Linked DNA regions of Homo sapiens: region 1 is linked to region 2. Evidence: fine-mapped expression QTL. Tissue or cell type: whole blood. Region 2 holds a variant in brackets; the other region holds the start of a gene. All regions are shown on one strand. Distances are between the middles of the regions.

What was found. PIP is the estimated chance that this variant, and not a neighbour inherited with it, causes the effect.
Region 1: it holds the start of NAPA-AS1, and the variant in region 2 is fine-mapped to the expression of NAPA-AS1 in whole blood (TOPMed, PIP above 0.99).

Annotation. Positions count from the first base shown.
Region 1 is chr19:47,481,843-47,488,352 of GRCh38, forward strand. NAPA-AS1 (NAPA antisense RNA 1) reads left to right here and starts at 2,440. Exons shown (of 4, transcript NR_038452.1): 1 at 2,440-2,682. KPTN (kaptin, actin binding protein) reads right to left here and starts at 2,377. Exons shown (of 12, transcript NM_007059.4): 1 at 2,093-2,377; 2 at 1,660-1,742; 3 at 1,453-1,537; 4 at 1,319-1,373. The coding sequence starts at 2,318. NAPA (NSF attachment protein alpha) reads right to left here. Exons shown (of 11, transcript NM_003827.4): 11 at 5,795-6,510. The coding sequence ends at 6,446. RefSeq lists enhancers at 2,302-2,591, 2,622-2,751.
Region 2 is chr19:47,561,065-47,569,182 of GRCh38, forward strand. All of the region lies in intron 2 of ZNF541 (zinc finger protein 541), which reads right to left. Among named protein-coding and RNA genes, the nearest start is that of ZNF541, 8.0 kb to the right of the region's middle. The variant A/C (reference allele first, on the strand shown) is at 3,775.

The sequences.
Region 1 (6,510 bases), 80 kb before region 2:
AGAATGGAACCCACACACTTTGGGGTTCTAGCACCTTGGTATTCTAGATGCTCTATGTTCTATCTCCTCGAAAGATGAGAATGTCAGGACTTTATCATTACAGAACCTCAGAAGATTCTGGCTTCTATCGTACTGTAGAATATTCAAATGTTGGAATCTTAGAGCCTACGACTCTAGAAAACTTAGCATCTCTGATCTTGGAATGTCAGACTCTAGAACATTAGAATCTGGGAATTCTAGATGTGCAGAATTCCCAGAATTCACAGGTGCTCCATCAACTCTCTCAGATTATCTAGTTCAGGAATGGCAGTGTGGTGGCCCCTTGGCCATCCGGTCCATGGCCACCTTAAAAGCATGATGCTCCGGCCAGGCGTGGTGGCTCACGCCTGTAATCCCAGCACTTTGGGAGGCCAAGGCGGGCGGATCACCTGAGGTCAGGAGTTCGAGACTAGCCTGGCCAACATGGCAAAAACCTATCTATACTAAAAATACAAAAATTAGCCGGGCATGGTGGTGTGAGCCTGTAATCCTAGCTACTCAGGAGGCTGAGGCAGTAGAATCACTTGAACCAGGGAGGTAGAGGTTGCAGAGATCGAGCCACTGCACTCCAGCCTGGCAACAGAGCGAGCATCTATCTCAAAAAAAAAAAAAAAGAAAGAAAAAAAAAGTGCAATGCTTTAAAAAACAAATGTAGAATCTGATTGTCTATGGACAAGTTCGTGGTCTCCAGTTAGCTACAGCTTTCCAACCTCAGCTGCATATGTGTGTGTGCACATGTGCTCCCTGTTATATTACATTTGTGCTTTCCATTCTCACATGACCTCTCTGGTCCCCAAAGGCATTTTAGTTTAATTTCATTTTATTTTATTTATTTATTTTTGAGACAGAGTTTCGCTCTTGTCACCCAGGTTGGAGTGCTGTGGTGCAATCTTGGCTCACTGCAACCTCCGCCTCCCGGGTTCAAGTGATTCTCCTGCCTCAGCCTCCTGAGTAGGCTGGGATTACAGGCACACACCACCATGCCCAGCTAATTTTTGTATTTTTAGTAGAGACGGGGTTTCGCCATGTTGGCCAGGCTGGTCTCAAACTCCTGACCTCAGGTGATCCGTCTGCCTCAGCCTCTCAAAGTGCTGGGATTACAGGTGTGAGCCACCGTGCCCGGCTGGCATTTTAGTTTTCAATCCCTAATCTAGTACAACCTCTTTATTTTCCAGAAGGGGAAACAGACTACAGGGGTCTGTAAGTAAAGAAGGGGTTCGAGAAGCCAGGGTTTCTACATTTACAGTGGAGTGGGCGTCGATGCGCAGGGGACACTCACTCCGCATGGCACAGCTGGAACGGAGTGAACTGGAGCTCCAGGTTCAGGCAGCTCTCTGTAGGCAGGGCACAGGCAGGTTAGCATGGGGGACCTGCTGGGGACTCTCTCCCTCCTCCCGTCCACGCCTCACTCACGGGCAATAGAGTCAAGGTTGTACTCAGAGCCGGGCTCGTAGTCGCAGTAAATGTTCAGGAAGGGGCTGCCCTTGTCCCCTGAATCCTGGCGGAGGACACGGGGTTCAGGGGAGGGCAGGGGTGGCAGGAGGGATCCGGGGCGGCTCAGTGGAACTCACCATGTGTGTAAGGAGGAGGGCGAAGGGAGGTGGAGGGGGCTCTAGGTACCTTGATGAACGTGATCCCCACAACCAGACCCCGCTTGGGGGGTGACTTGTTGAAAGTGTCGATGGAGACAATCTCCGCATCCACTGGGAGGGGAGAGTTCTAAGTTCAGTGTCAGGCAGACTCATGCTTCCAATCTCCCCAACATGGTGAGCTCTGGCTACCGCAATGATCATGCCCTCTGGTCTGAGTCCTGACCACCATCACCTGATCTCTGTTCCCTGGGTACTAGGGATCCTGACCTGTAAGTCTGAAGAATCCTGAAACCCTAGGCTCATCCGGGCCCCAACTATGCCTGCCCGCTGATCCCAGTGACCCCCTTAAAACCACCTGATCCCATTCTTCCAGCACGGTGACCCGGCTCAGACAGAGCCTCAGAAGCCTTCTCAACACCACGTTCCAGGCCCCCGCCCCCCAGCACCATAGCGCCACCCACCGGGAATGTAGTTGAACTGCAGCTCCTTGGCCACTGGCCGGATTTTCTGTCGGAGGTCTTGGTAGCGGAAGCCGAGCACCTTGCCTTTAAGGGTGGCGGCCAGCAGCTCCCCGCGCCCGCCGGCGCCGCCTGCCAGCCCGTACACATTGCTCTGCGACGAGAAGCGCGTGAAGCTGTCCTCGCGCAACGGACAAGGCCCCGCGGCCACGGCCGCCTCCCCCATCATGCCCCTCAGTTAAGCACCCTCTCCGCAGCCCCCGCCCCAACCCGCACTACCCAACCTACGACTCTCTAAGCGACCTGAACCGCCGGGTGCCCGGCCGTTGCGCGGGCTGATGACGTACGGAAGCTGCCGGCGTTGCCCTCTCCCAAGATGGCGGCCAGGTCGCCTGCTCGGGCCTCCCAGGCGACTTTGCCCCACTGCGCCCGCGCTCTCTTCTCCTTTCCATTTCTGGACCAAGGGGCTGCCATAAGGAGTCTGTGACTAGAGATGGGAGGTGGTGGCCACGGCCTCTCGCTGTATGCTGTGTGGAAGGTCGAATCATCATCATCATAAAACTTAATATTGCCCTTATGTGCCAGGAACTACTGTAAGTGCATTCCATCTAATACTTTATTAAAAATTCGCAAGGGGGTGGAGGTAGGTACTTAAATCCATTTTAGAGATGAAGGAATTGAGGCACAGAGGGGTAAAGTAACTTGCCTAAGATCACACAGCTAGTAACGAGCGGTCAGTACTGGAAACCAAACAAGGTAACTCCACAGTTCACTATTTTTTTTTTTTTTTTTTTTGAGACGGAGTCTTGCTCTGTCACCCTGGAGTGCAGTGGTGCGATCTCGGCTCACTGCAACCTCTGCCTCCTGGGTTCAAGCGATTCTCCTGCCTCAGCCTCCCAGCAGCTGGGATTACAGGCGCCACCACACCTGGCTAGTTTTTCTATTTTTAGTAGAGATGGGGTTTCGCCATGTTGCCCAGGCTGGTCTGGACCTCCTGACCTCAGGTGATCCGCCCACCTCGGCCTCCCAAAGTGCTAGGATTATAGGCGTGAGCCCCCTTGCCCGGCCTATAGTTCATAATCTTAACAGTATCACCTTTAAAATAATTAATACATTCTTCTTGCCCCCAAGGAAAAATGATCCAGCTATAATAACCACCTCCTTTATCGAACACCTACTTGGTGACAGTCATGCTGGCTCTGATAATCTGATTCCTTACAACTGTTCTGCAAGGGCCTACTGTTACCCTCCCTGCCGGTTCACTTATTCAGGATTCATTGAGCTTTTACTATGTGCCCGGACGTCCTTTGCAAATCTGTCTCACTAATCTTTGCAAGAAAGAAACCTCTACAAAGAGGTTTATTATCCCAGTTTAGAGAGAATCAAATGGAGGCTCAGAAAGAGTAAGTCCACTGACTGATATGCTAGCAAGTGGTGGGGACAGGATGTAAACCAGGTGTTTCCGACTCTGGGGCCTTCAGGGGTTCCTGTCTGTGCTGCTTTGTCCCTAGAAGGCCATGGAGGTTTGGGTACTATGTGCACATCTGTGTATCATTTCCAGAAGACATGGGTTGGCCAGCTGTCCTGGACACCTCGAGCACACACAGACTGCAAGCTCCATGAAGGCAGCAGGCTGATCTCCCTTGATCACGGCCTTATCGCCTGTACCTGGAACACAAGGCCTGACACAAAGCAGGCATTCAGAAAATATGTGTCAAAAATCACAAACTATGTGCTGAGCATGTAAGAGACAGCTCTTACATGATGGAAAGTTCTCAAAGGCAGACTGGATAACGGAGGTGGCAAGGAATTTGTGATGATTCCAGATTTCTGGATGTGGAGAGTAGAAGTTCCTGGAGGGCAGTCTGGGAATGCCGTCAGTGCTGCTGTATTCCCAGGGCCTGGCATGCAGCAGGTGCTTAGTGAATATTCGCTGAGGGAGTGGCACGTGGGTCTAGTGCCACTTCAGCAGTGCGTTTCCTTCAGGCGTCTTCCCGCCCTAGTAACCTATAAGCCACATGTTGAGCGGATGAATGAAAAAATGAAGTTACAGGTTAGGAAGGAATCATCCTGTTAAGAGGTTTCCAATCCTAGCTGCACACTTGAACTGCCTATGAAGTTTTAACAAAACAAACCAAAACAGGCCGGGCCTGGTGGCTCATGCCTGTAATTCCAGAACTTTGGAAGCTGAGGCAGGCGGATCAACTGAGGTCAGGAGTTTGAGACCAGCCTGGCCAACATGGTGAAACGCTGTCTCTGCTAAAAATACAAAAATTAGCTGGGCGTGGTGGCGCACGCTTGTAATCCCAGCTACTCGGGAGACTGAGGCAGGAGAATCGCTTGAACCCGGGAGGCAGAGGTTGCAGTGAACCAAGATCGCACCACTGCACTCCAGCCTGGGCGATAGAGCGAGACTCTGTCTCAAAAAAAAAACAAACCCAAAAACCCCCAAAGGGTAGGAAACCTCAGTCAAACCACAATTTATCAGAGTGCGGCCCCAGTCTGGATACTTTTATTTTTGCACCATCATGCCTAATTTTTGTATTTCTAGCAGAGACAGGGTTTTGCCATGTTGGCTAGGCTGCTCTCGAACTCTTGACCTCAAGTGATCCGCCTGCCTCGGCCTCCCAAAGTGCTACGATTACAGGCATGAGCCACAGCACCCAGCCCCAAGTCTGGATACTTTTAATGACTTTAAAGCATAGCCAGGGCGGACCATCACTGATTTAGGTCATGGATGACAGAAACAGATTCTCACACTATCCTTCAGCCAGCACCCATGATGGGGGCAGACATGGTAATCAATTTCAGGTCTCAGAAGTCTTTGCTGCCATTATCAGTGGACTGGAGCTGTGGGAGAAGCTGCAGGGGAGAGAGGAGCAGGGCAGGTGTCAAGGAATTTGAACCTCACCTGCACTTCTCTAGGCTTTCTGGGCTGGAGCCCCTCTCCCAGGAGTCCACCCTGGTTTCCTAGGCAGCCCCTCCTCTGTGCAATTACTGCCCCTGCTCACTTCCTGACATTTTCCCATCATGCCTGGGCACTGAGCCTCCTTCAGCTGTCTCCTCTGTAGCGAGGGGCCCTGCGCGGGGCAGGGTAAAGCACATGTGTACCAGACAGGGCCCCCAACATGCACATTGTGGAGTGTGGTGGAGGCAGCTGGTTTCTGCCCACCTTTCCTGGGCAAAGGCTCCTGCTATCTCCTCCCCCACTCCCCAGACCCACTCGGGCCTCAGACTCTGCCCACCAAAGCCGCTTCCTCCCCCGTCCTGTGACAGATGGAACAACTGTCACCGGGGCGTTCAGCCTTCCTGCCAGAGAAATGTGGACATGGGAGATTCGGTGGGCTTCCACCCATTCTCATCCAAAGCAGTCATGAGGACCGTCACATTCGACCCTCCCACTGGCTCTGAGGGGTGGCATCACCACCGTGCATCCCAGTTGAGGAAATCAAGGCCCCTGGACCCCAAGAACCCAGAGAAAGATCAAGATGGGCGCTCTGGGACTCCCAAGCCAGAGCTCCTCCCCAGGCCCACCGTCCCTGGGTCTCCCCCACCTAGAAACTGACCCAGCCCACACGTGTTTCAAGGATGCATGCGCCTGACCTCCCAAGAGCTCGCCCAGAGTCTGGGGGACCAGGAGTGTGAGAGGGACTGGTGACTGGCCCAGGGGCAGAGTGGGTAGCAGAGGTGAGGAGGAAGAGAGACTCATGCAAAAGTGTTGTTTTTTATTTTCTTTCTTGGGCCAGCTGCAGCTTCCAACCAAGAAAACCTCAAAGCATTAGGGAAGGAGCAGGTGTGGGGCTGGGGTGGGGAGAATCCCCTAAGCTCCAGGGCCCAGGGTCTAACCTGAGAGGTCGGGGCTGCAGGAAGCTGGGGGAGGCTCCCGGGGCTGGGGGAAGAGGAGCCTGCCCCCAGCAGAAACAGCAGGTCTCAGCGGCTACATGTGCTTTAGAGCTTGGCTGGGGGACAAAAGTGGGAGAGAGAGAGAAACCGGCCTCATGACTCAGCTGGTCAGGAGATAGGGGGCCAGATGCTGACCCCAAATCCCCGGCAGCACCCCTAGCAAATAGGTCTGTATCAAAGATTCTGTACAGCTGGTTTTGGGGGTGAAGGGCACCTATGGGGGCTTAAATAAATGGACAGGGGGCAAGGGATGTAGCGAGAACAGAGGGTGACTGTCCGGCCAGCAGCCTGGGCCTCTGGCGCCCCTGCATGCTGACCCCCGGTGCCACCTGCCCACTGTGGCCCGCGGCACTCCCCAGATGGGAAAGGAGGGAAGCTCTCCAGCAAGTCTCGGCCCCACCTCTCTCTGAGCAGATGGGACAGGAAGACGGGCACTGGGGGGCTGGGTGGGGCTTAGCGCAGGTCCTCCTCATCGCCCTGGATGGTCTTCTTGATGCGCAGCAGCATGGTGGTGAGCC
Region 2 (8,118 bases):
AGACCAGCAGTTGTGTGGTTTGTGGGGTGAGGAGTGAAACTATTTTGCATGATAATCTAATGCTGCATACCTGACATTATACCATAGTCAAAACCCACAGAACTATACAACACAGAGACTGAGCTCTGGCTGGGTGTGGTGGCTCACACCTGTAATCCCAGCACTTTGGCCCAGGAGTTTGACAAAGTCAGACCCTGTCTCTATGAAAAAAAATTTTTTTTTAATTAGCTGGGCATGGTGGCACATGCTTGTGGTTTCAGCTACTTGGGAGGCTGAGGAGGGTGAATCGCTTGAGCCCAAGAATTGGAGGCTTCATTGAGCTATGATTGCGCCACTGCACTCCAGCCTGGGCAACAAAGTGATACCCTGTCTCAAAATAATTAATTAATTAAGTATTAAAAAAATTAAAAAATCCAAATGAATAAAAAAAGAGCTTCCACATATTCCTGGGAATTTAGAAGGTGGCATCTCAGGGTGGGCACATGTTTGGAAAGGACCAGAGAAGGCTTCCAAGCTCTCACCTCTGGCTGACCTTCGCTCTGTGCAGGCAGAGAGTGAAGGCGAAGGTAGGGTTGTTAACCGCCTGCCTGAGTGTGGAAGCAGTGCCCCGCTGCAACTACTGGGAGCTTTTTGTTTTTTGTTTTCTGTTTTGTTTTTTTTTTAGCTCCAGGAGTTTAAGAAGATCTCTGTTAAGTCACTAGCTGACCACTAAACTAACAGAACAGACTACTGACCACACCCCACAAAGAACACAATCTTTACAAAAATAGCTTAGAAAAGCCACTAAACAAACAGTTACAACCCACAATAAGCAGAAACAACCAAGCCTGAGGACAGGGAAGAAAGGAAGAATCCCATTCCCAGAGTTACCAGACTGCAATATGCAAAATATCCAGTTTACAGGCTGGGTGCAGTGGCTCACGCCTGTAATCCCAGCATTTTGGGAGGCCGAGGCGGGTGGATCACCTGAGGTCAGGAGTTCAAGACTGGCCTGGCCAACATGGCGAACCCCCGTCCCTACTAAAAATATAAAAATTAGCTGGCTGTGGTGGCAGGCACCTGCAATCCCAGCTACACGGGAGGCTGAGGCAGGAGAATCGCTTGAACTCGGGAGGTGGAGGCTGCAGTGAGCCAAGATCGTGCCACTGCACTCCAGCCTGGGCGACAGAGACTGTCTCCCCAAAAAAAACAAAAACAGGCCAGGCGCGCTGGCTCATGCCTGTAACCCCTGCACTTTGGGAGGTCCGGGAGGGCGGATCACTTGAGGTCAGGAGTTCAAGACCAGCCTGGCCAACATGGTGAAACGCCATCTCTACTAAAAATACAAAAATTAGCTGGGCGTGGTGGTGTGTGCCTGTAATGCCAGCTACTCAGGAAGCTGAGGCAGGAGAATCGCTTGAACCCGGGAGATGGAGTCTGCAGTGAGTTGAGATTGTGCCACTGCACTCCAGCCTGGGTGACAGACTGAGACTCCATTTCAAAAAAAACTAAAAACAAAAAACAAAACAAAAAAAACCAAACAGATAAAATGTCCAGTTTTCGAATCATGGAAGCTTGAGAAAAATGAGAGATCGAGTTTTTCAGCAAAAAATTATGAGTCATGAAAACAAAAAAGCATAGCCCCTTCAGATGGCCATCTGTCTCACACAAATGGAATCAGATGACCTGTGGCCTTCTGTGTCTGGCTTCTTTCACTAAGCACAGTGTTTTCAAGGTTCACCCCCATTGCAGCACGTGTCACTGCTCCATTTCTTTCCAGGGCTAAATAATGTTCCCCTGTCTGGAGAGACCACATTTTGTTTAACCACTCTCCTGTTGATGAACATTTGGGTTACTTCCATTTGGGGGCTATTGTGAATAATTCTGCTCACACCTAGATGTTAAAGAAATGCTTCATGACTCACTGAATAACAAATCTAGTGCATACTTGAATAACGGGAGTTTGGGACTAGATTTCTAGGCCACCAGTTTCTACTTTCTAAGAACTTTTCATGTTGATATGTAATAGAACCTCTGCACCTGCAATGTCTGCATTGCATGTTATATGTCTACCTGCCTGTCTGCGTGTATGCAGCCTATTGAGGCAGCACAAATTTAAAGTCACATACAGGTACGTAATCCCATATACAACTCTGAGACCCAACTGAGTTTCAGAATTTGAGGGGGTTTTAGAAGTGTAAATCAATGCATACCCCGTATTTTAAGTAACTTCCAGTGGGGTTCAAGGCAGTACCTGGTAACCAAATAATTATTTCTGCATCATTGCCTATGACCACTCAGCGTACGTGAAATAAAGGCTGTGAAAAGCAACATGTAGGGTCAGGTTTGGCCACCAGATGATATTCGAGATGCCTCAGGATTCTCAGAGCTTTTTGGGTTTCCAAAAAATCAGGGAGAGGAGTGTGGATCTGTAAGCCAAATTCAAATTTCACCAGTTCCACAGTGTCTGCTACAGTGCTGCTATAAACTGTTTTCACCACTCTATGAGGGGAAAAACCCATCTCCCCCTGCATCTCCCAATAATAAAAACAAGTGAATAAAAATCACATATATATTTTTTGAGACGAAGTCTTGCTGTGTCCCCTAGGCTAGAGTGCAGTGGTGCAATCTCGGCTCACTGCAACCTCTGCCTCCTGGGTTCAAGCAATTCTCTTGTCTCAGCCTCCCAGTACCTGGGATTACAGGCACTCACCACCACGCCTGGCAAATTTTTGTACTTTTAGTAGAGATAGGGTTTCACCACGCTGGTCAGGCTGGTCTCAAACTCCTGACCTCAGGTGATCCACCCGCCTCGGCCTCCCAAAGTGCTGGGATTACAGGCATAAGCCCCCGCGCCTGGCCTAAAAATCGTATTTATTAAGCACTTTCTCCACATCGGGTATCATACCAAGTGCTTTATATGCATTAACTTACTTCTCACAAAAACCTAGATTGTAGTATTACTTCCCTTTTACAAATAAGAGAGACTAATTTGTCCAAAGTCAAAACCCAACAGCCAGATCTTAAACCCAGATACTCTGACATTAGCGCTAATGGTCTTGCCCATTACACAGTACTGATTCCCTATAAACTGAACTGTATACTGCACTGCTCCAATTAAACTACAAAACACATAAGGTGCTGGGTCAGGGGGAAGAATGTCTCTGGACTCCCCAAGGCCAAATCACCTGCTTTCCAATATACTCCCATAGTCCACAGAACAAACTGGTCAGGTTACAACCTCAGACAGGCAAGCCAAAAGTCCAAAGGCCATGCCTTGATATTTACATCCTTCTCCAGACAGTAAAGCAAAACCCTCTCTACCGATACTGAGCTTCCTTTTATTCTGTCAACAAATACATTCAATTCAACAAGAGTTTTAGCACCTTCTAGGTACAAAACTCTCTGCTAGCCCTTACGAGGCAGAGTTTATGGTCTCCTGCAACCCGGCAGACATTCCCAAGGACCCAAATACTCTTTCCAAGAATTTTATCATTTTGTGTTTTCATTTAAATGCTCAACATCACTAACGATCAGGGAAATGCAAATCAGAACCACAATGGGATACCACCTTACTCCTGCAAGAATGGCCGTAATCAAAAAATAAAAAAATAACAGATGTTGGCATGGATGCGGTGAACAAGAAACCTTTCTACACTGCTGGTGGGAATGTAAACTAGTACAGCCACTATAGAAAACAGTGTGGACATTCCTTAAAGAACAAAAAGTGGAACTACCATTTGATCCAGCAATCTCACTCCTGGGTATCTACCCAGAGGAAAAGAAGTCATTATA[A/C]GAAAAAGATACTTGCACATGCATGTTTAGAGCAGCATAATTTGCAATTCCAAAAATACGGAACCAGCCCAAATGCCCACCATCAATCAAGGAGTGGATAAAGAAATATATATATGATGGAATACTACTCAGCCATAAAAAGGAACGAAATAATGGCATTCACAGCAACCTGGATTGAACTGGAGACTATTATTCTTCTAAGTGAAGTAACTCAGGAATGGAAAATCAAACATCGTATGTTCTCACTTTGTAAGTGAGAGCTAAGCTATGAGGATTAAAGGCATAAGAATGATACAATGGACTTTGGGGACTTGGGGGGAAAGGGTGGGAGGGGATGAGGGATAAAAGACTACAAATTGGGTTCAATGTATACTGCTTGGGTGATGGGTACACTAAAATCTTACAAATCACCACTAAAGAACTTACTCATATAACCGAGTACCACCTGTTCCCCCAAAATCTATGGAAATAAAAAACTAAAAAAAGAAAAAAGAAAAGAAAAACCCAGTACATCTGGATCATTAGAGGACTCCCTTGTAACCGAGTACTACCATGTGGTTTCAATGCCTGGGTGTGTTTATGATTGCACTCATGCCAAAAAGGACTACTTAATTGCTTCAGGCTAAAAAGAAGAGGATGGAGGGGGATTTAGTTCATAATAATGCCTTCGGGCTCTACTAGAGGCCAGCTGGCATCACGGTACAAATGGAAGTTTTGCTGCAGTTCAAATTGAGACAAGGGATGGGAGAATTGAGACCTCACAGGGCCTGCTAAACCCAAAAGGGCCCAGAGTGGCAGTCGGCAAAGTAATTGTTTCAAGGAGCAGGTAAGTTTCAGGAAATGGTATCCCTCTCATTAAATTAAATCGGTTTGGTTGCTTTGTTTATATTTAATTTGCAAATTGATTTTGGCTTTATAGCTGCACAGGAGCTATACACTTTAGGAACTTATGTCTTGTTCTATCATCACTGATGCCTTAATAGTTTTAAAACAATTTAAGTCAACATTGGGGATCCGAAGCAATTTTAATTTTTTTTCTTTTAAAAAAATGCTATCAGCCCAGCGCAGTGGCTCACGTCTGTAATCCCAGCATTTTGGGAAGCTGAGGTGTGCGGATCACTTGAGGTCAGGAGTTCGAGACCAGACTGGCCAACATGGCGAAACCCCGTCTCTACTAAAAATACAAAAATTAGCCGCGCATGGTGGTGGGTGCCTGTAACCCCAGCTACTCAGGAGGCTGAGGCCCAAGAATCTCTTGGACCCGGGAGGCGGAGGTTGCAGTGAGCCAAGATTGTGCCACTGCACTCCAGCCTGGGTGACAGAGTGAGACTCCATCTCAAAAAAAAATAAAATAAAATTTAAAGGGGCCATCATTCCATGACTGGTGGGGGTGAGGGGAAACAAAGGATTCTTCTATGAAATGCTACGACCTTTTGGGAAGGTAACCTACCATGAGATTCTAGACTGTAGAAGTAAGTCCACAATAGATAAATAATATTTACTATGTGTGTTGTTTGGAGGGGAGGGAACAATCTGAATGCCCATCTGATTTACAAATATATTTTATTTAGTCTGCAATATATTTAAATATGTTTCCATTAGTTATCCAGTTAAAGAATAGATGGGGCCAGGTATGGTGGCTCACACCTATAATCCCACCACTTTGGACAGCTGAGGCAGGCAGATCACCTGAGGTCAGGAGTTCAAGACCAGCCTGACCAATATAGTGAAACCCCATCTCTACCAAAACTACAAAAATTAGCTCGGCATAGTGGCACTCACCTGTAGTACCAGCTACTCAGGAGGCTGAGGCAGGAGAATTGCTTGAACTTGGGAGGCGGAGGTTGCAGTGAGCCAAGATCATGCCACTGCACTCCATCCTGGTGACAAAGCCAGACTCCATCTCAAAAATAAATAAATAAATAAAATAAGGCCAGGTGCGGTGGCTCACACCTGTAATCCCAGCACTTTGGGAGGCTGAGGCGGGCGGATCACAAGGTCAGGAGATTGAGACCATCCTGGCTAACATGGTGAAACCCCGTCTTTACTAAAAATACAAAAAATTAGCCAGGCGTGGTGGCGGGTGCCTGTAGTCCCAGCTACTCGGGAGGCTGAGGCAGGAGAATGGCATGAACCCGGGAGGCGGAGCTTGCAGTGAGCCAAGATCAGGCCGCTGCACTCCAGCCTGGGCCACAGAGCGAGACTCCATCTCAAAAATAAATAAATAAATAAATAAAATAAAATAAATAATAGAAAAATAGATGGATAGAGCACTAGAGCATCACTATCCAAAAGCACTTTCTGTGCTACTAAGCCTGCACTGCCCAATACTGCAGTCTTTAGCCACATACACAGAAATGCAGCTAACACCCTTGAGGAACTAAACTCTTTATTTTATTTAAGTTTAGTTAAATTTATTTATTTATTTATTTATTTAGAGACAGAGTCTCACTGTGTCACCCAGGCTGGAGTGTAGTGGTGCAATCTCAGTTCACTGCAACCTCCACCTCCTGGGCTCAAGTGATTCTCCTGCCTCAGCCTCCTGAGTAGCTGGGGATTACAGGCGCCCGCCATCATGCCCAGCTAATTTTTGTATTTTTAGTAGAGATGGGGTTTCACCATGTTGGCTAAGCTGGGTCTCGAACTCCTTACCTCAAATGATCCGCCCTCCTCGGCTTCCCAAAGCGCTGGGATTACAGGCGTGCGCCACCGCGCCTGGCCAGTTAAATTTAAACAGGTACAAGCGGCTAATGGCTACCATATCAGATGGTGCAAATCTAGGGATTTCTCATTCAAGTTAGGCTTTCCAACTTCTATTTAAAAATGTGAAAGAAAAAATCAGAAGATCTGCCAATGCTGAGTCCACATTCCTGCAAGGCAACAATTGGTTGGAGGTGAGAAGCCCCCACCACTCCCTATTCTCTCAGCTCACTGATTTCTGTGCCCTGCCAGGCCTCTGGAGGCATCTGAGTTTATGACCCTCCAAATGAAACCCTCCAAACTCAGGCTTAAATGTCACCTCCACTATAGAGAACACTTCCAACATAACAAAGTCTGAGATTAATTTCTCCCTCCTCTGAACCCTGACAAGCACTTGTGTAACAATCCACTTAACATTTACTCTAAATTATCTAGGAAGTTAATTATCTTTAAAGTTCTCCCATTTTCTCCAGACTCTCAGCTCTAGGATGGCTGGGACTCGGCCTTAGGTGTCTAAACTTCTCACAGTATCTTGCCTAGCACAGAACTTTGATCACAGAAGGCTCTGAGCATCCTTTTCATTCATGAGTGACAGAATTCCATTGTGCCACCTCTTTTCCTCTTTGAAAAGCTCCAACCACTGTTCTGCCACCACACCCCCCACCTCCTAAGCACCACCTTCTCCCTTCTCTCCCTGCATCCATGTTACCAGGGAAAGGGTCATCAAGTCTGAGTAACAGCAGGTTCCTGGGAGTTGAGCAGACAGACTTGCAGCTTTCACCCTAGCTATGCAATTTCCTTCATTTTATTTTATTTTATTTTTTGAGACAGGGTCTTACTCTGTCGCCCAGACTGGAGTGCAGTGGCGTGATCTCGGCTCACTGAACCTCCACCTCGCGGATTCAAGCGATTCTCCCATCTCAGCCACCCGAGTAGCTGGGTTTACAAGCATGTGCCACCACACCTGGCTAATTTTTGTATTTTTAATAGAGACAGGGTTTTGCCATGTTGGCCAGGCTGGCCTCGACCTCCTGCCGTCAAGCAATCCACCTGCCTCAGCCTCCCAAAGTGCTGGTATTACAGGTGCAAGCCACTGCACCCGGCCTGCAATTTCCTTCCTTACTTTCCTACTCCAATTTTTTTTGTTTTCCTGAGTTGAAGTCTCTCTCTGTCACTCAGGCTGGAGTGCAATGGCGTGGCCTTGGCTCATTGCAACCTCCGCCTCCTGGGTTCAAGTGATTTTCCTCCTCAACCTTCCGAGTAGCTGGGACTACAGGTGCACACCACCACACTGGGCTAATTTTTGTATTTTTAGTAGAGACGAGGTTTCACTATGTTGGCCAGGCTGGTCTCAAACTCCTGACCTCGTGATCCACCCACCTCGGCCTCTCAAAATGCTAGGATTACAGGCGTGAGCCACTGTGCCCAGCCTCCACTCCAAATATTATTGTAAACTATAGACCCATTTTGTTTGGCCTACACAGTATTTTTACAAATTGGATTAGTCATCAACATTTTTTTTTAATGGGGAGATTTCACCTTCCTATATGGATTTCTGGTTTCTTTTGAAAATGATTAGATTTGATATTCCTTCACAGTTAACAACGAGGTAGATCTGAGGGACAAATGGCATCTCTAGAAAGG